Homo sapiens: one gene and its partners. The protein of the gene in region 1 purifies or fractionates together with the protein of each later gene. This does not show direct contact. Each region holds a gene or a part of one and is shown in the gene's direction. Other genes may lie near its edges. The genes, in order: CEP162, PIBF1, BSPRY, TOP3A, C2CD3, PFKL and SPICE1.

What was found.
Region 2: the proteins of CEP162 (region 1) and PIBF1 purify together in Homo sapiens (affinity purification with mass spectrometry; one large-scale study listed by BioGRID and IntAct). This does not show direct contact.
Region 3: the proteins of CEP162 (region 1) and BSPRY purify together in Homo sapiens (affinity purification with mass spectrometry; one large-scale study listed by BioGRID and IntAct). This does not show direct contact.
Region 4: the proteins of CEP162 (region 1) and TOP3A purify together in Homo sapiens (affinity purification with mass spectrometry; one large-scale study listed by BioGRID and IntAct). This does not show direct contact.
Region 5: the proteins of CEP162 (region 1) and C2CD3 purify together in Homo sapiens (affinity purification with mass spectrometry; one large-scale study listed by BioGRID and IntAct). This does not show direct contact.
Region 6: the proteins of CEP162 (region 1) and PFKL purify together in Homo sapiens (affinity purification with mass spectrometry; one large-scale study listed by BioGRID and IntAct). This does not show direct contact.
Region 7: the proteins of CEP162 (region 1) and SPICE1 purify together in Homo sapiens (affinity purification with western blotting; one large-scale study listed by BioGRID and IntAct). This does not show direct contact.

Annotation. Positions count from the first base shown.
Region 1 is NC_000006.12:84,168,644-84,172,143, reverse strand, and holds part of CEP162 (centrosomal protein of 162 kDa), read left to right. Parts: intron 1-425; coding exon 426-538; intron 539-2,710; coding exon 2,711-2,816; intron 2,817-3,500. UniProt on the Homo sapiens protein: Required to promote assembly of the transition zone in primary cilia. Acts by specifically recognizing and binding the axonemal microtubule.
Region 2 is NC_000013.11:72,788,633-72,792,132, forward strand, and holds part of PIBF1 (progesterone-induced-blocking factor 1), read left to right. Parts: intron 1-3,500.
Region 3 is NC_000009.12:113,356,041-113,359,540, forward strand, and holds part of BSPRY (B box and SPRY domain-containing protein), read left to right. Parts: intron 1-3,500. UniProt on the Homo sapiens protein: May regulate epithelial calcium transport by inhibiting TRPV5 activity.
Region 4 is NC_000017.11:18,283,995-18,287,494, reverse strand, and holds part of TOP3A (DNA topoisomerase 3-alpha), read left to right. Parts: intron 1-1,974; coding exon 1,975-2,088; intron 2,089-2,187; coding exon 2,188-2,353; intron 2,354-3,500. UniProt on the Homo sapiens protein: Releases the supercoiling and torsional tension of DNA introduced during the DNA replication and transcription by transiently cleaving and rejoining one strand of the DNA duplex.
Region 5 is NC_000011.10:74,031,503-74,035,002, reverse strand, and holds part of C2CD3 (C2 domain-containing protein 3), read left to right. Parts: intron 1-394; coding exon of another isoform or gene 395-405; exon of another isoform or gene 406-561; intron 562-724; coding exon 725-1,652; intron 1,653-3,500. UniProt on the Homo sapiens protein: Component of the centrioles that acts as a positive regulator of centriole elongation.
Region 6 is NC_000021.9:44,306,553-44,310,052, forward strand, and holds part of PFKL (ATP-dependent 6-phosphofructokinase, liver type), read left to right. Parts: intron 1-128; coding exon 129-202; intron 203-707; coding exon of another isoform or gene 708-776; intron 777-3,500. UniProt on the Homo sapiens protein: Catalyzes the phosphorylation of D-fructose 6-phosphate to fructose 1,6-bisphosphate by ATP, the first committing step of glycolysis.
Region 7 is NC_000003.12:113,466,657-113,470,156, reverse strand, and holds part of SPICE1 (spindle and centriole-associated protein 1), read left to right. Parts: intron 1-918; coding exon 919-1,058; intron 1,059-1,257; coding exon 1,258-1,395; intron 1,396-1,752; coding exon 1,753-2,018; intron 2,019-3,500.

The DNA of each region.
Region 1 (3,500 bases):
AATCTTCCTCCAGCAGTGATTTTTTTTTTCCCCTCTCTTGAGCCAGAAACAGAAAAGAATGTAAAGGGTCTCACTGGGTCTTTCCACCCGGGTCCACACAGTCAGGATGTGGTGATTCCTTCAGCCACTCTCCCACTTACCTCCTGTGAAATGCAGTGCATTAAACTGACCTTAGGCCCTTTGGCTTTGGGAATTTTGCAAATTATTTTTTCAATTAGCCATTTTAAATGTTATGGAAAGAACTGTTTTTAGACACCAAATTTTCTTCAGATATAATATAAAAAGTTTAAAAAAGACTTTACATACGCAAAAGCTAAAGAAACTTAAAAGGCCGTTTAAAGGATTAATCTATTATGAGCACATATATTATGTTATATAAGTACTAATGACTTTTAACTAAAATGCAGTTTTCTGTTTTTAAAAAGGAAAATGAACGATTATATAATCAAGTAAAAGATCTCCAAGAACAAAACAAGAAAAATGAGGAGCGAATGTTTAAGGAAAACCAAAGTTTATTCAGTGAGGTAGCTTCCTTAAAGTAAGTCCTTTTGAACTTCTTAAAATCAAATATACTTAGACTATTTCAAGCATTTTCTTATTATGTTAATAATACATTTATTTTTACTTAGACATAGTAAAATTTTATTTTTATTTGTACACATTTCCAATTTTATGTTTAATACTCAGTGGATTTTTCTTTTGGTGTTAGATGGCCAGCACATACTTGATAGTATTTTCAGCATATTCATATTTGAATTCATATGAATTTATGTTCATAACTGATTCAAACATCAGTTTCAGGAAATTGAATATATAGTATTCCTCTTGATCAGTCATTAAGAATGAGATAATTAACCATTTCCCAAGGAACCATTTGATTAATAATACTAAAAAAGAATGGTCATACAGTATCACTTATGATCTTCTTGGGTCAGGTTCCATAGAAGCAGAGCCTGAGATGGTGGAGGTCCTTGTGGAGATGATATACTGAAGGATAACTCCCAGGAGAAGGGAGCAAGGGAAGCAGGAACGGTGAGGTAGGGGGAGGGCAAATAGTGGTCTCAGCTGGAGACTGGCTTCATTCTCCTCCCAAGAAGCTCTGGAGAATAAATTGTACCAGAGTTGGTCCCTGCTTGAGGCAAGGGGGCAGCCTTAGTCACTGGCCGGAGTGTACTGTGGAAAGGAGTAGGGGCTGCCCTTTATGCCGGGTCAGGGGCTGCGGTTTAAAGGAGCACCTGTAAGTTGTTTTCAGCCAGCATTTATCATGGCAGGGTTATGGAGCACCAGCACCTACTTAGGAATCATATTTCAGACTATAAGGTCTTTTGGACGTTACTGCTTCCAACTTTAACATATTAAGTGAAAAAGCTGGGCCCGTGAACATGGACAAGCTAGCATACTATCTTCTTTTAGAAAATGACCACTATTTGTGTATCTTTTTATGTAAACACCTAATCACTCAGAAAGGACTGTTCTCAGAAGTTTCTGACCCATGAGTATCATGAATGTTTACTGAATTTATTTATATACTTCTCCCCCTTTTTGGTTATATAACCTAGGGCCTAAGAGGCAGGGCTGCTAATAATAGCTCATACTGATCTGTCAGGCAAAATAGAAAAAGACACACTTGGTAGCAGACTATATATATATATCCTCTTTCTCCTTGTAAGTTGGTAAGTGTAACCCCAGGCCATGTGTGATAATCTGCACAGTGGTAATGCATGAATGCATTTACTTACGCTTTTTTTTTTTTTTTTTTTTTTTTTTTTTGAGACGGAGTCTCGCTCTGTCACCCAGGCTGGAGTGCAATGGCGTAATCTCGGCTCACTGCAAGCTCTGCCTCCCAGGTTCATGCCATTCTCCTGCCTCAGCCTCCCGAGTATCTGGGACTACAGGCACCCGCCACCATGCCCGGCTAATTTTTTGTATTTTTTAGTAGAGACAGAGTTTCACCATGTTAGCCAGGATGGTCTCTATCTCCTGACCTCGTGATCCACCTGCCTCGGCCTCCCAACGTGCTGGGATTACAGGCGTGAGCCACCGTGCCTGGCCTACTTATGCTTTTTTTCCCAGATGTTTCAGTAAAGTTATTTTAAAATATCTTATCTTGTACTACTTGGCTTCTAAAAGAAGATCTATCCCAGGATCCAAAATTGAAGCTGTAAATTAACTTTCAGAATGAAATAAATGGTTTCTTTAGTACATTAGGGTTAGATGATCTTATGTGGAATCCAAAACTCCTTCTATAATATCTCTGGAATAACAGGAAAATTGAATCTAAAGTCCAGATATTAGGCTGTGTTTGGTTTTGTTTGTTAGTTTCCATGTATGAGACTGGCGACTCTCAGAAAAGATTCTAGAACAATATGACAAGGACTGCATTAACAACCCCACAGAAAAATGCAGCGCATCTTTGTAGACGATTAATTTTTTTCCTCTGAGAATTGGGAATTAATATTTTTATATTATAAATAAACCAATAATCTTAGGTTTCAGTTCTTTTAGAATAGATATAAGCATTTCCCTTAAAGTATATTTCTCTTTTAGTATGGTAGTATTTTAATCTTTAGATTAAATGAAAATTTTACCTTCATTTATGCATACAGTTTCAATGTATGTTAGTTTTTAATTTTTAAGAATTGAATATTTTCTACTGAAAGGAGCACCTGGTAAGAAAGAAAAACAACTTTTTATTTTCAAAATAAATTAGAGAACAGATGCACAAAAGTCGTTTTCTGTCTCAAGTAGTTGAAGATTCAGAGCCCACAAGAAATCAGAATTTTACAGATCTGTTAGCAGAACTACGGATGGCACAGGTAAGTTGCATAACGATTTTGACTATTAGGGATAATAAAGGTTTTATAAAAATCCCCATTTTTATACAAATTTTTATTAAAAAATTACATAGAAATGTATTAAAAAATCTATAAATTTCATACCATTTAAAACTTAGGGAGAAATATCTTAAATTAGCATATAGTATGCACATGACCTTAGTATAGAGGAAACATTATATTACTGTTTTTAGATGTCATTGTCTTTATGATTCAGCCTCTCATCAGGCATTTGTCACATCTCATCAGGTGCATTTATCATAGAGCCATATCAGAGGCATGATTTTATTTAGGACATGTATACCTTATTTCAAACAAATTCCTTATTTGAAAGCGTGCAGCCTAAATAGTGTAATTTGGAGATAATTATTTACCTTTAAAAGTTAGTAGCTTTCTACCTGTCTTCCGAAGTAGACTGCACTTCTAGAGAGCAGAGACTGTATCTTACAAGTATTTATATTCCACATACCTAACATAAAGTTGAAATGCAATGCTGTTCCATAACTTTTTTATGTTTATTAAATTGTATTATAAAGAATATGGCCTAGAGTTTTCTAAAGCAGTATTTATCAATAGAAGGAGTTTGGGAATTTAAGGCAGGGTAGTTCTATTTTAAGCAGAAGTAATTCATGCACTGCATGATTTTTATCATCCCTGTCCCTAAGA
Region 2 (3,500 bases), on another chromosome or scaffold:
CTCTTTAAAGAGTTCTTCCAGAAGTTCAAGCCAGTGGCCTCAATTGACTAACATTGTATAGCATGACCACCCCTACCTACAAGGGATGGGAAGCTAACTGGACATGTTGTTACTAATAAAAACCAGAGTATGTCAGAAAGAAGGGAAGGTTTGATGTTGGGAGGCAAGTAAGTTTTTTCTTCTACCCATCAAAATCTTTTTTTAGTTAGAAAATATTTGAATCTAACATGTCCCACTCCATTGTGGCACCAATACAAATGGTTATGGATACATGGCTTTATTATAGTTTGTTACTAGGAATAGTCTTGGCCGTATTGATTTGAATTCTCCATGTCTAAAAACAGGAACAAGCAGGTCCAAGAACACTTTAAAAGCACTTCCCACTCAGCTGCTTGTTAACTGAAAGAATGTAGAAAAGCTACTCAGAAGAGTAGCTATTCAGGCCAAACTTCCTGATAGTAGAGCATTGTTAGCTTTACACTTTTATTTCCATCTATTGCTGCCTAGATTCCCTTCCTTACTGTACTTCTTTATTCCTTTCCTCTTCTCTGTTCTTGCCTTTCAAATTTTTAGACAGGGTCTCACTCTCTTGCCCAGGCTGGAGTGCAGTGGCTTGATCACAGCTCTCTGCAGCCTCAAATTACTGGGCTCAAGCAATCCTCTCATCTCAGCCTCTTGAGCAGCTGAGACTACAGGCGTGTACCACCACACCCAGCTAATTTTTTTAATTTTTTTGTAGAAACAGGGTCTCACTATGTTGTCCAGGCTAGTCTCAAACTCCTGGCTTCAAGCAATCCTCCCACCTTGGCCCCCCAAAGTGCTGGGTTTACAGCCTGAGCCACAGAATTGAGCTCTTTAAAATTTTTAAATGCCCCAAACTCTTTTTATTTATCTCTCATTAGAGATCTGTGGGTTCCTTATTACCTGGGAAATGAATACATTTCCCAGCTTGTCCTTGAGTTAAGAGACTCAATTTAGAAGTTAATTGAAATTATAAACATTGAAACCCTGAAAAAAATGTTTTTTTTTTCCTCGTGATACAGGTTGTTTCTTATCTAAAATGCTTGGGACCAGAAATATTTCAGATTTTTGATTTTTTTTTTAATTTGGGAATATTTGTGTTAGACCAGTTGAGCATCCCAGATCTGAAAGTCTGAAATCCAAAAGGGTCAACTGAGCATTTCCTTTGAGTGTCATAGTGACTCTCAAAAAGTTTCAGACTTCAGAGCATTTTGAATTTCAGATTTTAGGGTTTGGGATGCTCAACATGTAACAGTATTCTTGATTTGGGAAACAGTAATTATAAGGAATGTGTTTATTTTACATTTTATATTGATTTATTTATTGAGATGTTGCTGGATATATGCCAATGGATATGACAGAGGTCCCCCTTCTTATGGCCAAGACAGAAAATATTTTATGCTTTGTAGGCCACCTATGCTCTATCAGATTTTTCTTATGGGCTGGATTTAGCCCATCACCATTTTTTAATTCTTGCTTTAGACTATGTAGTCAGAAAAGCTATTGGCAAAGTTTAGCAGTTAAGAGTTACATGTCCTGATTTCTGTATTCAAAATGGCACTAAAATAATAGACTAAGGGCAGACAAGACAGAAACAGAAGAGTTACATTCCTAAGTTTTTGGCTTATTTAACTGGGGCCATTTATAAGAATGGAAGGCTGGGAGAAAACTGATCTGGGAGGTAAAATATATTAATAAGTTCAGTTTTGAAGGTGTAACTTATAGATTCCTAAATGTAATTGTCAGTTAGAGTTTAGGAGGAGTCCATCACACACACACACACACACACACACACACACACACACACACACTTATAGATAGATCACACACACCCTTATAGATAGATCACACACACACATAGATAGATAGATAGATAGATAGATAGATAGATAGATAGATAGATAGATAGATAAATCAGCATATAGGTGGCACCTAAAGCCATGGGATTGTATGGTATTTCCTAGGGAGAACAGAGGGCTATAAAGTAAGTCAAAGGGGTAGTCCAGCTGAGGAGCCTAGAAAGCTTAAGAGTATTTAGTGAGTTAAGAAAACTAGAGAAGAGTATCATGGAAGCTAAAAGAGAATGAAGTGGTTAGCTGTATCAAGTCATGCTGTCAAATAAGATAAATAGGCAGAAAAAAACAATGCACAGGACATTATGGACTTTAACAAGAATAGTTTCACTGGAATAGTATGGGGCAAAAACTATATTGAAGTTTTGCTCTGAAGACCAACAGAGAAATGGTGCTATAGCAAAGAGAATGATGTGATCAAGGGACCATTTGCTTGATGATAGAATGATTCAGTAGAGAAGAGGGACTTGACGATGCAAGAGGAGGGATTTACTTGCATATGTTATGGATTGGCTGTGAAATTCATGTATTTTTGTTTGTTTGTTTGTTTGTTTGTTTGTTTGTTTTAGATGGAGTCTCACTCTGTCGCCCAGGCTGGAGTGCAGTGGCATGATCTCAGCTCACTGCAACCTCCGCCTCCCGGGTTCACGCGATTCTCCTGCCTCAGCCTCCCGAGTAGCTGGGACTACAGGCACATGCCACCACACCCGGCTAATTTTTTGTATTTTTAGTAGAGACAGAGTTTTACTATGTTAGCCAGTATGGTCTCCATCTCCTGACCTTGTGATACACCCGCCTCATCCTCCCAAAGTGCTGGGATTACAGGTGTGAATCACCACGCCCTGCCTGAAATTCATGTATTTTAAGGGGCAAACAGGAATCGTCTTGGTTAAAGCAAAGGGAATAAAGAATTTTCTAAATAGACTAAGAGCAAAATCCAAGTGCTTGAGAAAGCACAGCATACTTGGGGGATGGCAAGCACTTAATATTGGCTGAAATGGAGTTTCCTTTTAAGCTAATGACAAAAGTAGTTGGCTAGATCAAGAAATACCACTGTATTATGCCACAGTGTTTAGAATTTATTCTGAGGACAGTGAGGATCCTCTGAAGAATGTAAAACTAGGAAAATAATTTTTTTTTTTTTGAGACGGAGTCTCGCTCTGTCTCCCAGGCTGGAGTACAGTGGTGCAATCTTGGCTTACTGCAGCCTCCGCCTTCCAGGTTCAAGTGATTCTCCTGCCTCAGCCTCCTGAGTAGCTGTGACTACAGGCGCCCGCCACCATGCCTGGCTAATTTTTGTATTTTTTAGTAAAGATGGAGTTTCACCATGCTGGCCAGGCTTATCTTGAACTCCCGACCTCAAGTTGTCTGCCCGCCTCGGCCTCCCAAAGTGCTGGGATTACAGGCGTGAGCCACCGCACCCAGCTGAAAATAAATTTTTGATAGCATTTTTTAAAGGTAAGATAGAGGAATATAAATTTGGAGGTTGGCAAAACTGGAGGCAGGAGGCCAGGCGCGGTGGCTCATGCCTGTAATCCCAGCATTTTGGGAGGGCAAGGTGGACTGATCACTTGAGGTCAGGAGTTCAAGAACACCCTGACCAACATGGTGAAACCCTGTCTCTAC
Region 3 (3,500 bases), on another chromosome or scaffold:
ACAAAACAGAAATTCCTATTTTCATGAAGCCTACATTCTTGTCACAGAAGAGGGACAGTAACAAAATCTATGTTATGTCCGAAGGTGATATGTGCTATGGGGAAATATAAAACAGAAAGGGGAATAGGACGGGTTGCAATTACATGTGCTGTGACCAGGAATGACTTCATTAAGAAGGTTGAGGCTGGGCGCAGTGGCTCATGCCTGTAATCCCAGCACTTTAGGAGGCTGAGGCGGGTGGATCACGAGGTCAGGAGTTCCAGACCATCCTGGCTAACGCGGTGAAACCCCGTCTCTACTAAAAATACAAAAAAATTAGCAGGGCATGGTGGCGGGCGCCTGTATTCTCAGCTACTTGGGAGGCTGAGGCAGGAGAATCACTTGAACCCGGGAGGCGGAGGTTGCAGTGAGCTGAGACTGCGCACTGCACTGCAGCCTGGGCAACAGTGCGAGACTCTGTCTCAAAAAAAAAAGAAAGAAACACTTTGGCTGCTATGTTTAGAAGTGATTATAGGCGGCAAAGGTTAAAGCAGGGAGACCAGTTAGGAAGCCATTGTAATAATCCAGGTGGGAAACAAGTGTGGTCTGGACCCAAGCAATGGTGGCAAAGCTAGTGAGAAGTGGCTAGATTCTGCATATATTTTGAAGAGGCAACAGGATTTGCTGATGGACTAGATGTAGGCTATGAAAGAAAGAGGGGAGGTGTCAGGATAATGCTGAAGTTTTTTTATTTGAGCAACTGGCAGGATGGAGCAGCCATGAACTGGGTGGGGGAAGGACTGCATGTGGAGTGATGGTTGGCGGAGGCAGGGAGGGGAGTGGGGGAGAGCAGGCATGCTAAGTTGTTGTGGGCATGTTATGTTTGAGATACCTATTTGACATCCAAGTGAAGGTGCTGAGTAGGTAGCTGCATATATGAGTTGGGAGAGGGCTGGGTTGGAGATATAAATTTGGGATTTATCAGTGTATAAATAGTATTGAAAGCCGTGGGAGAGGATGACATCACTAAGTGAATGAGTGTAGACACGAAAGAGCAGCGGTCCAAAGACTGAGCCCTAGGGCACTTCACCTCCTATTGAGAAGACAGAAGGAACCAGCGAACGGGGACCAAGAAATCAGCTAATGAAACGGAAGTAAACTAAGAGAGCAGAGTGTCCCAGCATGGGTTCCAAGGAGGTGGGAGAGATCACTGCTCTCAAATGGTGTATATTTATTTAACTATCTTATCACAGGCATAGATTCATGTGATTACTACCACAATTAAAATACAGAACAGTTCCATCACTAGGACTCCTTGTGCTACCCTTTTATAGCCACATGTACCCTTTCCTATCCCCTTGTATTATTAATACAAAATTTCTGAATTTGGATTGCTAATCTCAGTAAAGCATTTTTTATTTTTGTTTTAGGATTTTTGCTTGTATGCTCAGGAGTGAGATTAGTCTATGAATTTCATTTCTTGTACAGTCCTCATCAGATTTGGTATCAAGGTTATGTGAGCCTTATTCAATGGATTGGAAAACAGAACTCTTTTTTCTTAAGGGTTTACTTAAGATAAAGTTGTTCTTAGTTTTGATCAAAGTTGCCACAGGTTTGACTGTTAGTCTTTAGAACCAGCTTCTAGTATTTTTGGTCTACTCTTTTGTATCTTTGTCTTAATTTCATTATTATTTCTTTCTCTTTTTTTAGACAAAGTCTCACTCCATTGCCCAGGCTGAAATGCAGTGGCGCAATCATAGCTCACTGCAGCCTTGAACTCCTGGGCTCAAGTGATCCTGCTGCCTTGGCCTCCCAAACTGCTTGGATTACCAGCATGACCCGGTACTGTGCCTGGCCTGTAGAGTTCTATATATATATATATATATATATATATATATATATATATATATATATATATATATATCTCTATTAAGCTTATTCATTGGGCTGAGCATGGTAGCTCATGCCTATAATCCCAGCACTTTGGGAGGCCAAGGCCAGGAGGATCACTTGAACCCAGGAGTTCGAGACTGTTTTGGGCAATATAGCAAGACCCTATCTCTACAAAAAATTAAAAAATTATCCAGACATGATGGCATGGGCCTATAGTCCCAACTATTTGGGAGGGTGAGGTGAGAGGATCACTTGAGCCTAGGAGTTTGAGGCTGCAGTGAGCTATGATTGCATCACTGCATTCTAGCCTGGGTGACAGAGCGAGACCCTGTCTCAAAAAACAAAAAATAAAAACCTCTTTTTTTTTCTTTTTTGAGACAGAGTCTTGCCCTGTCACCCAGGCTGGAGTGCAGTGGTGCGATCTCAGCTCACTGCAGCCTCCACCTCCCAGCTTCAAGCAATTCTCCTGCCTCAGCCTCCTGAGTAACTGGGATTACAGGCTCCCACCACCAGGCCCAGCTAATTTTTGTATTTTAGTAGAGGCGGGGTTTCACCTTATTGGCCAGGTTGGTCTTAAACTCCTGACCTTGGGTGATCCACCTGCCTCAGCCTCCCAAAGTGCTGGGATTACAGGTATGAGCCACCGTGTCCAGCCACAACCACACTTTTAAAAGGATGCTTGGGCTATTTTTCCAGCATTTCTCTACTTTATTCTGAGAGGGTTTTTGGTTTGTCTACTCTCTGTCATGTGTTTGGAAAGGGAAGTTTTTCTTTTCTTTGCTCTCCTTTTCTGGGAATGGCTCAACAAACTTGTTGAGAATGACTAGAGTCTTTTAGGCAGGAATCAGAATCTGATTCATCTTGGGTGAGGATCTGTTTTGATCCAGGATCACACAGTACAACCATGGTTTCAGGGGCTCACCCTGTGGGTAAGGCATTAAAGTGGGATAAACAGGAGAATAATCGTGGGCTGGATGCAGTTGCTCATGACTGTAATCCCAGCACTTTGGAAGACTGAGGCAGGAGGATCGCTTGAGCCCAGGAGTTCAAAGCTGCAGTGAGCTATGATTGTGCCACTGCATTTCAGCCTGGGCATCAGAGCAAGACTGTGTCTCTTAAAGAAAAGAAAAGAAAAGAAAAAAAAAAGATAAAGAAGAGCAATAGTGAATGAATGTTATTGAACACATAATGTAGCAGGCTTTGTTCTACTTACTTTATATATATTAACACATTTAACCCTCACTATAGCCTTATGAGGTAGGTACTATTATTATCCTCATTTTACAGATTAGAAAATAGAGGCATAGGGAAGATAAGGAATATGTTCTAAGTTCCACAGCTAATGAGCGGAGCAGTTAAGATTTAAATCTACACACTACCTCTAAAGCTTAATTTCCTGACCACTATGTTATGTTGCCTCAAGAGCACACTATAAACTTGGAGTCTTACCTTCTGGGTTCACTTGCCATTCACTTAGCTAGTCTCTCCTCCCTGTAAGGCAAACTGTGGGTCTCAGTGTTTTCTGTAAAATAGGAATGATTGCCCTGTGCACTGTACAAAGCAGGTCTTAAGGGACAGGGCATAGGGAAAGCTGCTGGCTGTCCCTGACTTTCTGACATGAAGGAGGC
Region 4 (3,500 bases), on another chromosome or scaffold:
GAGTGTAGTGGCACGATTTCAGCTCACTGCAACCTCCGCCTCCCAGGTTCAAGAGATTCTCCTGCCTCAGCCTCCTGAGTAGCTGGGACTACAGGTGCGCATCACTGGCTAATTTTTGTATTTTTAGTAGAGATGGGGTTTCACTGTTAGCTAAGCTGGTCTCGAATTCCTGACCTCAAATGATCCACCCGCCTCGGTCTCCCAAAGTGCTGGGATTATAGGCCTGAGCCACCATGCCCAGCCAGACTTTTTTGTTTTATGTAGGGACAGGGTCTTGCTATGTTGCCTAGTCTGGTCTTGAACTTGCACCCTCAAACTGTCCTCCTACCTCAACCTCCCAAAGTGTTGGGATTACAGGAGTGAGCCACTGCACCTGGCCAGATTTGCCTACTTTAGTTATTTCCTATAAAGAGCCAGGCACAGTGGCTCACACCTGTAATCCCAGCACTTTGGGAGGCCAAGGTGGGCCAATCACTTGAGGTCAGGAGTTCGAGACCAGCTTCACCAACATGGTGAAACACTTTCTCTACTAAAAATGAAAAAATTAGCTGGGCTTGGTGGCAGGCGCCTGTAATCCCAGCTACTCGGGAGGCTGAGGCAAGAGAATCACTTGAACCCGGAAGGCAGAGGTTGCAGTTGATGGACACTTGAGTTGTTTCTACTCTTTGGCTATTATAAATAATCCTGCTGTGAACAGTTTTGTACAAGGTTTTGTGTGGATATGTGTTTTCATTTCTCTTGGGTAGACTTAGGAGTGGGATTGCTGGTTTACTTGGTAACTCTACATTTAACATTTTTAGGAACCACCAAACTTTTCTGAAGTGGCTGTACCGTTTTTCATTTCCACCAGCAAGGCACTAGGATTCCAGTTTATCCACATCCTTACTAACACTTAGTATTATCTCTCTTTTTGATTTTGCCAGTAGGTCTGAACTGCTATTTCACTGGTTTTTTTGGTTGTTTTTTTGTTGTTATTGTTGAGGTGGAGTCTCGCTCTGTTGCCCAGGCTGGAATGCAGTGGCTCGATCTCCGCTCACTGCAGGCTCCGCCTCCCAGGTTCATGCCATTCTTCTGTGTCAGCCTCCTGAGTAGCTGGGACTACAGGTGCCCGCCACCACACCCGGCTAATTTTTTTTTTTTTTTTTTTGTATTTTTAGTAGAGACGGGGTTTCACCGTGTTAGCCAGGATGGTCTTGATCTCCTGACCTCGTGATCTGCCCGCTTCGGCTTCCCAAATTGCTGGGATTACAGGCGTGAGCCACCACGCCCAGCCCTTTTTTTTTTCTTTTTTTTTTTAAAGAGAGTCTCACTCCATCACCCAGGCTGGAGTGCAACGGTGCCATCTCAGCTCGTTGCAGCCTCTGTCTCCTGGGTTCAAGTGATTCTCCTGCCTCAGCCTCCTGAGCAGCTGGGACTACAGGTGCGTGCCGCCACACCCTGCTAATTTTTGTATTTTTGATAGAGACAGGGTTTCAGCATGTTGGCCAGGCTGGTCTCGAACTCCTGACCTCAGATGATCTGCCCACCTTGGCCTCCCAAAATGCTGGGATTACAGGCATAAGCCACTGCTCCCAGCCTTCACTGCAGTTTTAATTTGCATTTCCTTCATGGCAGAGCTACATTTTGAAAGGTCCCTTTGGCCACAGCTTAAAGAATGGTTAGGGTAGAGGAAGAGACTAGAAATAGGGACACAAGCTGCAAGTATGGCTTGGACACATGGGGAAGAGAATTTTTAAAAAGAGCTTTGAAGCTGGAATTGACAGCTTTCCTGAGTAATGGGATGTGAGGGAACAAGAGAGTTGAGGTTGCCATTGTGATTTCTTGAATGAGCTATATGGGAATGAAATGAAGGCATCTTACCTGCATAGGCTGTCCAGGCAAAGGAGGGATTCCGGGGTGAGCAAGGTGCCCATGCGCCACCCGGGTGGAGCTGTTGTCTGTATTACCTCAGAGTAACCAGCAAGTGGCTTCCAGGTACGGATGCCACTCATGCGGAGCACATCGAGACCATCAAAGCCCGGATGTACGTGGGCCTCACCCCAGACAAGCGGTTCCTCCCTGGGCACCTGGGCATGGGACTTGTGGAAGGTAAGGGAGGACAGAGCTTGCAGTGGGTAGTGGGTGGTGTCGCCCAAGTCCCTGAGGGTCTCAGGTGGGCCCTCACTGAGCTCGACTCTCTCCCTGCAGGTTATGATTCCATGGGCTATGAAATGTCTAAGCCTGACCTCCGGGCTGAACTGGAAGCTGATCTGAAGCTGATCTGTGATGGCAAAAAGGACAAATTTGTGGTTCTAAGGCAGCAAGTGCAGAAATACAAGCAGGTTTTCATTGAAGCGGTGGCTAAAGCAAAGAAGTAAGTCCTTAAAAGAAATACAGAGGGGTCTCACTATGTTGCCCAGGCTGGTCTTGAACTCCTGGCCTCAAGAGATCTTCCCACCTCAGCCTCCCAAAGTGTGGGGATTACAGGCGTGAGCCACCGCATCTGGGCCAGTCAGAGTTTATAACCCTGCCAGATTCATCCTCACCAGTGGCCTCCTGGCCTGGAGGTTTTCCACATACCCCTTTTCTTTGGACTTTCTTCTCTGGGTTCTTTTACAACTCTCCATAGAGCTTTGTCAGTATAGAAACAGTAATCGGAACAGTCTCCTTCAGTTATTCTGAACTATTGGCTTTAGAAATACCATTCTCTTGATTTTAATTATCTTTTTTTTTTCTGCTTTAATTACATGACACATTAATTATCTTGAGTTAGGCAACAAAGTCTTTTAAATCAGTAAACCCAAGTGCTGGAGTGTGATCCATTTGTTTTCTGGAGCATTTAGAGGTGGATATTTAGCAAGCAGCATGTGTGTATTTTGTTAGAAATGATGTGTTTTCTACCTGTGATATTATGATTTATAATAAGATATATATATTTGGACTTCATTTTCTGATACCCTTGGAATTTTTTAAGTGCTGTGTCTGTTGTATACAAATGAGATGACTAGTGGCCAAGGGCTCCTGGGTAGCCTTGGGATCGGTCTGGTTGTCAGGGAACCAACCCTGTGATTAGAAGGTTGGGACTTTGAGTCCCACCCCTACCTCAGGAAGAGCAGAGGGGCTGGAGGTTGAGTTGATCACACGTGGCCAGTGATTTGTCAATCATGCCTAAGTAATAAATCCTCCATAAAATCCCCAAACAAGGGTCAGGCACGGTGGCTCACGCCTGTAATCCCAGCACTTTGGGAGGCCGAGGCGGGTAGATCACAAGGTCAGGAGTTCAAGACCAGCCTGGCCAACACAGTGAAACCCCTTTCTCTGCTAAAAAAAAAAAAAAAAAATACAAAAATTAGCCAGGCATGGTGGTGCGTACCTGTAGTCCCAGCTACCTGGGAGGCTGAGGCAGGAGAACTGCTTGAACCCGGAAGGTGGAGGTTGCAATGAGCCGAGATTGCCCCACTGCAGTCCAGCTTGGGCAACAGAGTGAGACTTCTTCAACAACAACAAAAACAAATCAAACA
Region 5 (3,500 bases), on another chromosome or scaffold:
TAATTTGAGATGACTAGTAGCTTCTGTTTATTAAGTGGTTATATATTCACCACACAGTGTATGCCCATTTCTTTCGTGTATTCTCTACTGTAACCTTATGAAGTGGGTGGTGTTGATTACACTGTACAGATCAATAGGCTCAGAGAGGATGGTTTGCTTATGATCACAAAGTTAACAAGTGACAACAGAGATTCGAACCCAAGATTGACCGGCTCCAAAGCCTATGCTCTTTCCAACATACCTTGCTGCTTCTATTTTCTGTGTAAATCTTCCCTGCCTTATCATATGGGTGATAGATATTTCCTTGCTTTTATTTTCGAAGTAAAATAGGTAGTTTTAATAACTGTCATCAAATAGGTAAATAAGTGGATTCTCATTTTGATTTTTAATATAGGTAGTTACTGAAGTAACTGGAAGCATGAACATGCCCACCAGGACTCCCAGCTCCCAACGATTCCTGAGCATGAGCAGATAGTCTCTGAAAGCATTTCCACAGATGTATCCACAACTATAGATTAGATTCTGGTCCTCTGATATTAGAATAAAGTACTAAAAATTGTACCGCCTTGAATATAGTCTCACTGAATCTTGGGTGGACTAATTTTCTTTATGGTTTGTTCAGAGTCTGATTGCCATAGTGCTTCTGAAGCTAAAGGCTAGTGTGGGAAATTTGAGGGGTCTGTGGCCCTACCTTGTAATAAGAGTGATATGTGTTGCTGTTCAGATCTGCAGACTATCACCAGGGATTCGCAAGCAGCTTTGAGTTCTCACCGAGCCAGGAGTAGAAGCAACAAGGCCACCACCCTCCCAGATGCTCAGGACACAGAAGCACTGCAAGAACGATGCACAATGCCAGATGAGCCATTGGTAAGAGCTCCAGATAAAGGCACAGATTCCCCATCACCCCCTCCTCTCGAAGAGACTTCAAATGGAGGAAGAATGCTCCATGAGTCCCTGAGGCATGCAGTACCCATTACAAGGATGCAGAGCAGTGAAGACACTGAGGCAGGCCCAGCCTACAGTGATGAGGACTATGAAGAAGACATCATTGAGCCCAGGACCTTAAATGAGATCACCACGGTGACAGACAAAACTAGCCCTTGGTCTAGTGTCATATCAGACACAAGTGAGGTCATCAGCCCTCAGCCTGACGAGGTGCAGAGGGAAGGCCCCTCTTGTCCTTCTCCAGGGCCTTTCTGCAGAGAGGAGCTTATGGTCAAAAGTAGCTTTCTCTCCAGCCCAGAAAGGGCTGTCAACCCCCACCTGCCTAGGCAGGGTTCTCCTAGCCAAAGTCTTGTTGCTTGTGAGTGTGAGGCCTCTAAGGCCAGGGTTGGTGGCGAGTCTGCCTCAGCCAACCCTCAGCCCATCCCATGCCCAACACTCTCAGGAGCTCAACAGAGCAGCACGTTTGTTGGATGGAGCTCACCACAGACAGATCAGAACAAGGAGCCCAAGTCAGAGGCCCCAGCTGAGAATGAAGCTGCCACCAGTGAGCTCGGTGACTCTGCTGATAGCTTCAAGAAGTTGCCGCTAAATCTAGCCTCCCAGAGCAGAAGGGAAAACCATAAGGGACCACCCATCGACTCCTCTGACATCAGGCAGAGGCAGGTGACAACTGGATCAGAGACGTCCACAAAGCAGAGCCTCCTGCTGTATCCTTTGGCATTTCCCACAAGTGGTTTGGATGCAGGTACTTAGACTAGCCTAGTGTGAGTGTGAGCAAGTGGCCACCCTCATGGAATGCACTAGGGGGCATGGAAAGACCATTCCTTCAGAAGACCCCACCTGCATGACAGGTGCTACAGTTTTACCATTAACACCAGCCCTCAGAAACATAATGCCTTGAACTGGGTTTAGGCATTCGTAGCACATTAGCCTAGCCTACCCTGATTTATCCAATTCATCTGTTGGGTATTTTACCACCTGAAGGCAAGGCTTGGGATCTAAGGAATGAGACTATTTATCAGTTGAAAGAGAAGCAGAGGGTCTAGAGAAAGAGGAAAGAAAATCACTGCCATTGAGCACTTTATGTACATTTTTCATTCAGTCATCACAAGTCTTTTAGGTAGGTATCATCCCTATTTTGCATATATAAGGAAACTGATGCTCAGTTATTGTGACTTGCCTTTTTTTTTTTTTAAGAGACAGGTTATTCTGTCACCCAAGCTGGAGTACAAGGTTATTACCATACCTCACTGCAGCCTCAGATTCTTATACTCAGGTGATCCTCCCACCTCAGCCTTGCAAGTAGCTAGAACTACAGGTATGCAGCATCACACCCAGCTAATTTTTTTTAAGAGTTGGGGTCTTGCTGTGTCACCCAGGCTGGTCTCAAACTCCTGGCCTCAAGCAATCCTCCTGCCTCACCCTCCCAAAATGCTGCAGTTAGAGCATTTGAGCCACCACGCCTGGCCAGATTAAATTTTTTTAAAAAAGGAAGTGATGGAGCTAAACAGGCACCATGGAGATGGACTTTCCCAAGTCCCCAGTAAGGTACTGTTGATGGGAACAGGGGGCACCTGACATTCCCCACTCCTTCCTTTTAAACACAGACTGGCATGTTATGGGGAAAGGAAACCACTTAGGACCATCTACAGCCTTCACACCTGTAGCCTAACCAGCTGATCAGATCAGCTCACCTGCTATCCCAACAAGCAGGGAATATTGTACGGCTGGCAGGTGAAGCAGGCTGCTTTACTAGACTAGAGATCTTCCTCTACTAGAAGTCAGGGAGCCTGACTTTGACCCTTCTAGACCCACAAAATTATTTTTGTGATTATAGACATATAGTTTAATCTTTATGTGCACGTTTCTTCACCTGTAAAATGGAGGCGGAAATCCCTTACCCACCAAATTATAAGCTCCCCAGGTCAGGGACCTTGTCTTTTTCTGCATCCTCAGGACCTAGCACTACACAGAGAAGGGATTGGTAAATGTAGATTGGATTGAACTATCACAGTTTCACAACATTGTTGAGAAAACCAAATGAGTGGAAACATTTGTACACACCACACAGTATGATTCTTGATGCAGATCAGAGAAAAACCTAGGGGTGGGAGAGTGGGCTCAGGAAAGGATTAAAGCATGCAATGGCTGGAGGCTGAGCTTTGAAAATAGACCTCCTTGTGTGCAGTTCTCCCTGGCCTTGCCCATCCTGGATCCTGGCCCCTAATGTTGCTGCCTTTGCAGTCAGTATTAATTGTGCTCAGAATATGGCCGATGGAGGAGATGCCACATGTGCCCAGACCCTAAGTGCTGCTTTAACTTAGGCCTTCCTGACTATTCTTTCAAAAATAAATCGTGCCAGGCCCTGTGCTGGGTGCCAAGGACAGATTTGAATGAGACCTTACCTCGAGAAGTTCCCATTATGAGATAGGAGACAGTCAAGTAGATAGATACTGACAGTTTATTGTGCCAAGTACTGTGATGAGATGTGGACAGAACGCGAGGGACCATGAGGAGGGAGCTGCCCTAACTCTACTTGGAGCCATCCCAGTAAG
Region 6 (3,500 bases), on another chromosome or scaffold:
CCACCACCCGCCCTCTGAGATGGACAGGGTGTCCAGGCCTCCCCTACCCCCTGTCCTCTGAGATGGGGAGGGTGTCCAGGGCCTTGCTTCTCAGCGTGGGACTGACAGGTTTGCCCTGACCTCCACAGGCATGAACGCTGCTGTCCGGGCTGTGACGCGCATGGGCATTTATGTGGGTGCCAAAGTCTTCCTCATCTACGAGGTAAGGCCAAGGTGGGCTGTGTGTGTGCAGGGAGTGGGGACCTCCTGAGGCGCATGCCGAGGTGTGTTCTGTGTGGGTCACACTGGGAGACGGGGTGGTCCTGGCCTGGAGGAGCTGATGGGTATGTGGTCTTGGGGAGTGTGAGGGGGAGCTTGGGGCCAGGCCAAAGGCATCTGCAGAAAGAAGACCTACTGCCTTGGGACTCAGCCCGGCTGGAGGCTCAGAGGCTGCAGAGCACGGGCCTGGGGGCAGGGAAGGAGCTGGGTGGACAAGGAGTCGAGGCCCTGCCTACAGTGATCGCTGACGGGCCAGGCCCCACCCACCACACCCCTGCCTGGTGTCCCCCAGCCTGGCCCTTGTCCCGCCCCGAGGCCTCTGTGAGTGGGGGCCAGGGACCTCACCGCCTCTGCCCTTGTCCTCCCCAGCCTCCTGCCTCACCACCCAGACCCGGGGGGCAGCCGCTGGCAGCAGCTCTGCTGTGTCTATGTTCATTGTGTCCCCGCAGGAGCAGCGGATGCCCTACTGCCTCAGCCCCAGTCCCCGTGGGAGATTTGGGGCTCGCCCTCCGTCCTGGGTATTTACACACCCACACTTGCGCTCACACATGTGCACACACAGGCGCATTCACACACTTGGGCCACACCACGCACTCACAGGCTGCATTCTTGCCTTGTCAGGTGGTTTTCCACATTCCACAAGACAAGGTCTTTTGTTATTTTGTTGCCACTTTTTATGTAATATGTAGCTGTTTATATAAAATGTAGCAACCCCAGCTCTGCAGCCCCAGGCACTCAGCCCCACCCCCCTCACTGCTCACTGCTCGCTGCTGACCACTCACCGCCCTGGGTCTCAGTTCCCCCATCTTGGCCCCAGGGAACAGCAGCCTGTCCAGCCCTCCCTCTGCAGGACTGTGTGAATGAATGAGTGAGTGGGCAGTCTGTGCTGGCCCGTCCTCTCCCTGTGGCCAGGCTGGGGCCCTGCCAGTATTGGATTAGGAAGCAGGTCTCAGAGCCCTGGGGAGCTGGGTGTGGGGGCCTCTCTAGGCAGGCTGGGCTGTGTCCGTACAAACCCCTCCTGCCACCTGCTCGACCTTCAGTTTCTTCTTCTAAGTGGCAAAGGGGAGAAATTAGGGTTTTCCGGAACCCCCACACATTTGTGGTTGGGAAAGACTCCTGTGGCAAAAGACAGAAAACAGGTTCATCGGTGCAGGGCGTGTCCTGGAAAAGGGGAGAAGAGGCACTTTGCCGTGCCTAGAGTCCTGGCTTCTGCAGAGCCCAGCAGAGACCAGTGCACATGGAGAAGCCGAGGGGTACAGGGACGCAGCGTGAGGCCCTCGGAGGTGGGGGAATGCAGGAGGGTGAGTTTATGGGAAAAAGAATGAAGTGGGTGGGCGCGGGTCCTGGGGCTGTCTCTGGGTCCTGAGGGCTGTGAGGGGCATTTACATCCTGTCCAGGCGGTAACAGGAGGAGCCTTAGTCTTGGGATGCTGTGTGCTGCTTTCCTCTCAAAGGGAGGCAAGGCTGAGAGCTTCCCTGAATCTGCTGCCTAGTGGGCTTTAGCTCAGAAACATCCACATCTAAGAGGCAGATTTTGAGATGAGACATTCTGATATAGCGGCCCAGGGAAGACTTCCCCTCCGTCCCATGAAGGTTCTTGGAAGAATCCACTTGCGAAAAGCGGATTAATAGGGCAGAGGTGCTGGCATTCATTGTGAATAGGCATGGAGAGGTAGGGCGAAGATGCTGACCTGCCCTCCTCCCAGGGAAAGGGGCATGGGCAGCCTGGATGATTCTAGGGGGGTAGGAATTTTTTTTTTTTTTTTTTTTGAGACAGAGTCTCATTCTGTTGCCCAGGCTGGAGCGCAGTGGCACAATCTTGGCTCGCTGCAACCTCTGCCTCCCAGGTTCAAGCAATTTTCCTGCCTCAGCCTCCTGAGTAGCTGGGATTACAGGCACCCACCACCACGCCCAGCTGTTTTTTGTATTTTTAGTAGAGACGGGGTTTCACCATGTTGGCCAGCCTGGTCTCGAACTCCTGGCCTCTGGTGATCCACCCGCCTCTGCTTCCCAAAGTGCTGGGATTACAGGCGCGAGCCACTGTGCACGGCCATGAATGGTTTTTAGGGGATTCAATGGGCTTGGACAGCATCTGTTAGCCCTGGTGACCACCTGCCCAAGTGTGTTGGCAGACACAGGTCTTTCTTCCTACGATGACCTCAGTGCATGGAAACTCAGGGAGGGGACTGGCCGTCACTGTTCCTTTCTCCAGCAGCTATGGGCTTTAGGCAGATTCGGGGGCTTCAGGGAGCAGCTGCATCCTGAGCTTGGAGGAGGCAGAGGGTCGAGAGGCAGAAGGGGGAGGTCAGGGAGACCTGCGGCTGCGTCAGTTCACATCAGACTGCATTTTGGGTTTCTGAGCCCCCAGCGCTGGCTTCCTTCAGCAGGGAGACCGATCCCTTCTCCTTGGGGCTATTGTTAGGGCAGAAAGGGAGGGTGGCCTTGGAGGTGAAAACCCTTCTCAGTTCTGACACAAAGGAGGGCTCAGAACAGGCTACTCTTATCCCCCCAGGCAGAGCCCACAGCATAGCAGGGAGGGCCCTGAGCCTGGGTCCAGGCCTGCAGGGGTGAGAGGAGGGGGCGGGGCTAGAGGGGAAGGAGGGGAAGGTGAGCTGGGCCTAGGAGGACAGAGACGGAAACAGAGTGGGTAGAGGGGGGCAAACAGCTTCTAGAAGATTCCAAGGGTAGGAGGAGGTTGTGTCTGTGAGACTGATTCCAGCAGAACTGAGCCACTGGCCTTGTGGGGTCTCTGGGGACTGCTGGGCTGGCCATACCTGCCTGCCCCTCCGCCCAGTGGGGCAGGGGCCTGGCTGGCGCCTGGGCTCTGTATTGGATCCTGAGTTTTGCAGACAGACCTGTGTTTGGTGGCCTCCTGCTCAGGTGGGGCTGTGGGTTTGGGATCATTTTCCTGTTTTCCTTGTTCCTAGCTCAGGGCTGGTACAACCAGAGGGGGCCAGGCTGGCCTGGCCTGAGCCGGAGGAAGTAGCTCTGTGGTCCCTCAGATCAGCCCCTGAGATGGGGCAGGGGCACCTGTCCCCCAGCCCAGCTGGTGGGGAAGGGAGGCTGTCAGGCTAGAAGCCCGCCATGGCCAGAGTGGGGATGTTCATGCGCCCCGCAGCGCGCACTATCCCTTGACCCCCTGCCTGCTTGAGGCACTTGCCCTCCTGGCCCCCAGGGCCCTGACACCTGGTTGGGGAGAAGGCGGAGGGAGGAGCAGAAGCCCACAGCTGAGCTGGCATCCGC
Region 7 (3,500 bases), on another chromosome or scaffold:
AGGTAGGCTGTAACTTTAGCACTTTGAGAAATAGACAAATGAGACAGTTGAAAATTAAAATATCAACCTTATCAGTGATAAAAGTGTTTATAGCATAACGCTTAGCTCTGTAACCAATGTGCTTGTAATTACTAACCCCTAAACTGCAGCATCTCTTCTCACTCTATCTAGCCCCTCCCTGACACACAGGGACAGAGTATGCTGTGGTCAATTTACTTCATTGATGAGCAGAGACTGGCTGCTCTGTGGACAGGCTCCTTTGTAGGACAGAGAAACCAAAAGGGGCTGAGCCATATATGCTTAATTACTTTACTCTAGAGAAAGAGAGAGGAGGATGGAGCCATACCACAAAACTGCAGAAAGGGCAAACATACCTATGTTAGGGACCAAGGTAGGTAGGAAACTGGGAGGCAGATGGAATGATTCTTTCTAACACTAAGGTGATAGGCATTTTTGCTATCTACCTGTCTTATCAGTTATAGTGAATAGTGTTTTTTCTTTGACTATGAATTACTAAAAGCTCCTTCAAATCAAACATGTAACTATTTGAACAGTTTAAATGATAGCACCTATTTTTTATATAAATTAATATAATATACATATAAATTAGATATAAATATAATTTAATTTATATAATTAAATTATAAATTAAATTACATGTAATATAGAATATATTTTATAATTATGTGTAATTATTATATAATTATATATAATTAATTATATAATTTAATTATAAATTATAATTAAATTTATATGCATATTTATATATAAAATTAAATTTATAATTATATAAATATAAATTATAATAATATAGATAATGTAAATATAAATTAAATGCCTGCTATCATTTAATTTATATTTATATTATATTAATTTATATTATAATTCTCATGTAGCTTATTGTCCTGTAATTTATAGGTTTCTCCAACAACTAACAGAAGAGAATTTTGAGTTAATTAGTAAGTTGTGGACTGACATTCAGCAGAAAATAGCAACCCAGTCACAAATAACTCCTCCAGGAACGCCATCATCTGCTCTTTCATCAGGGGAGCAAAGAGGTTTGTTTCCCTTTTGCATTATTTCTAGGTGCCTGCTTTATTAGGTTCATTCTTGAATGCAGTAATTTTTGAAGGAATGTTATTTGAGTTTTGACTGCCTTTGCCTAATTGACTAAAATACTGATGGATCTGTCAATTGAAATACTTTCTTAAGAAGTTTGTTCACTTGAGATACTTTTGGAAATGTTCTTCCTTTTAGCTGCTCTGAATGCTACCAATGCTGTCAAGAGACTCCAAACCAGGCTTCAGCCTGAAGAATCTACTGAGACTCTAGACTCAAGCTACGTTGTGGGACACGTGCTGAACTCAAGGAAGCAAAAACAGCTGTTAAATAAAGGTTCAGTCCCTTAATTTACAAAGATGAATATTAAACATGTAACTTGATACAGCTGTCTTAATCTCTTAGTCAATGTTTTTCTCCCTTAATCTCATCCACATGGTTCCAACTGAAAGTTTATTGAATGGTAGCTAAGAAATGTCTCCTACCACATGTAACTCTGGAACAGTGGTTCTAGTGCATTCATTATAGCTAGTGTAAATCTGGTTTAAACTGTTTAATTTTTATGAGAGAAATGGTGATATCGTCTATACAAGCCTTTTATAAATTGTGAACAATAGTCAAAAGATTTTTCTAGTAGTTTTCTAGTCATAATTTTTCCTGGTCTTAAAATAGAATGACTTCTCTCATTATCAGTGAAAAGGAAACCGAATTTGCATGCTCTTTCCAAGCCGAAGAAAAACATATCATCAGGTAGCACAACCTCTGCAGACTTACCAAATAGGACTAATTCCAACCTGGATGTCCTCAAACACATGATACATGAAGTGGAACATGAAATGGAAGAATATGAGCGGTGGACAGGTCGCGAGGTCAAGGGTCTGCAGAGCAGTCAGGGTCTTACAGGCTTCACTTTGTCGCTGGTGAGCTCCCTCTGTCGCCTGGTTCGGTACCTTAAAGAGGTAAGGACATTAGGTTAGTAGAGTCTTCTTTTCAGGCAGAAATGCATGAGTTTTTTTTCCTTTCCATTTATTGCAACCTCCAAATAAAGTACAGTCAAATTTGAATAGCTTCGTTTAAAATACCTCAGTTTTAGATTATCTGCAGTAAAGGCTTATCCTTTAAGTCTTTTCTGCCGTTAGTTGATACATGCTCAGATAAGTGATTTTAATTTTAATAAGAGCTTTAGCAAATTATAATTAGTAGGGTAAATCTGCCATTAATATAATTATATCTTGTGCTAATATTAAATATTACTGTTTGACAGTTGTAGATTAAATAGAACTGTTAACTGTGTCTGCATTCTATTGCTATTCTCTGCTTCCTACTCCCACATTCAGTTTGGAGAGTGGCATTGCCTATAATCGGTAGACTTGATATGTGGGAGAATTCTTCATGTTCCCTGTATGTCTGGTAACTCACATATGGCTTCAATGTCTAAGTGGGAGATGTTTTATTGTTGTAAAAATAATTTATAAAATAAGCAAGAATTCTTTGTTTGGCTGGGTGTGGTGGCTCACGCCTATAACCTATAATCCCAGCCCTTTGGAAGGCCGAGGCGGGCAGATTGCCTGAGGTCAGGAGTTTAAGACCAGCCTGGCCTCAACGTGGTAAAACCTTGTCTCTACTAAAAATACAAAAATTAGTCGGGCATGGTGGCGGGCGCCTGTAATCCCAGCTTCTGGGGAGGCTGAGGCAGGAGAATTACTTTCACCAGGGAGTTGGAGGTTGCAGTGAGCCGAGATCGCGCCACTGCACTCCAGCCTGGGCGGCAGAGCAAGACACTGTCTCAAAAAATAAAAATAAAAAAAGAATTGTTTGTTTAATTTGATTTCAAATAATCATCCACAGAATGCCACAGAATTAGAGTTAGCTATGTGTTTCATCTTTGAAAATCTATTTAAACTGTTATGTACTTAAGCCTGTTATACAAATATGACAAAAATGTTTAAGGAAACTTTATTATTTAATAAGATAGATTTACCACCTTAATACAGATGTTTTAGTTTCTCTAGAGCCGTCTTCCTAAAATTGAATTGCTTTTTTTTTGAGACAGGGTCTCATTCTGTTGCCCAGGCTAGGGTGCAGTAGTGGCATGATCTCGGCTCACTGCAACCTCCACCTCCCGGGTTTAAGTGGTTTTCCAGCCTCAGCCTCCCAAGTAGCTGGGACCACAGGTGCATGCCACCACACCCAGCTAATTTTTGTATTTTTTTTGTAGAGACAGAGTCTCACTATGTTGCCCAGGCTGGTCTCGAAATCCTGAGTTCAAAGCGATCTGCCCACCTTGGCTTCCCAAGGTGTTGGTATTATAGGCGTGAGCCTCTGCACCTGACCCTAAAATTAACTTTTTAATGACAGATTCATTGTATTGTCAGACCTATTAAAACCTTAACATTCTTTCACCCTTAACTCAGGAATCTTCAGGAGTATACTTTTGGCTC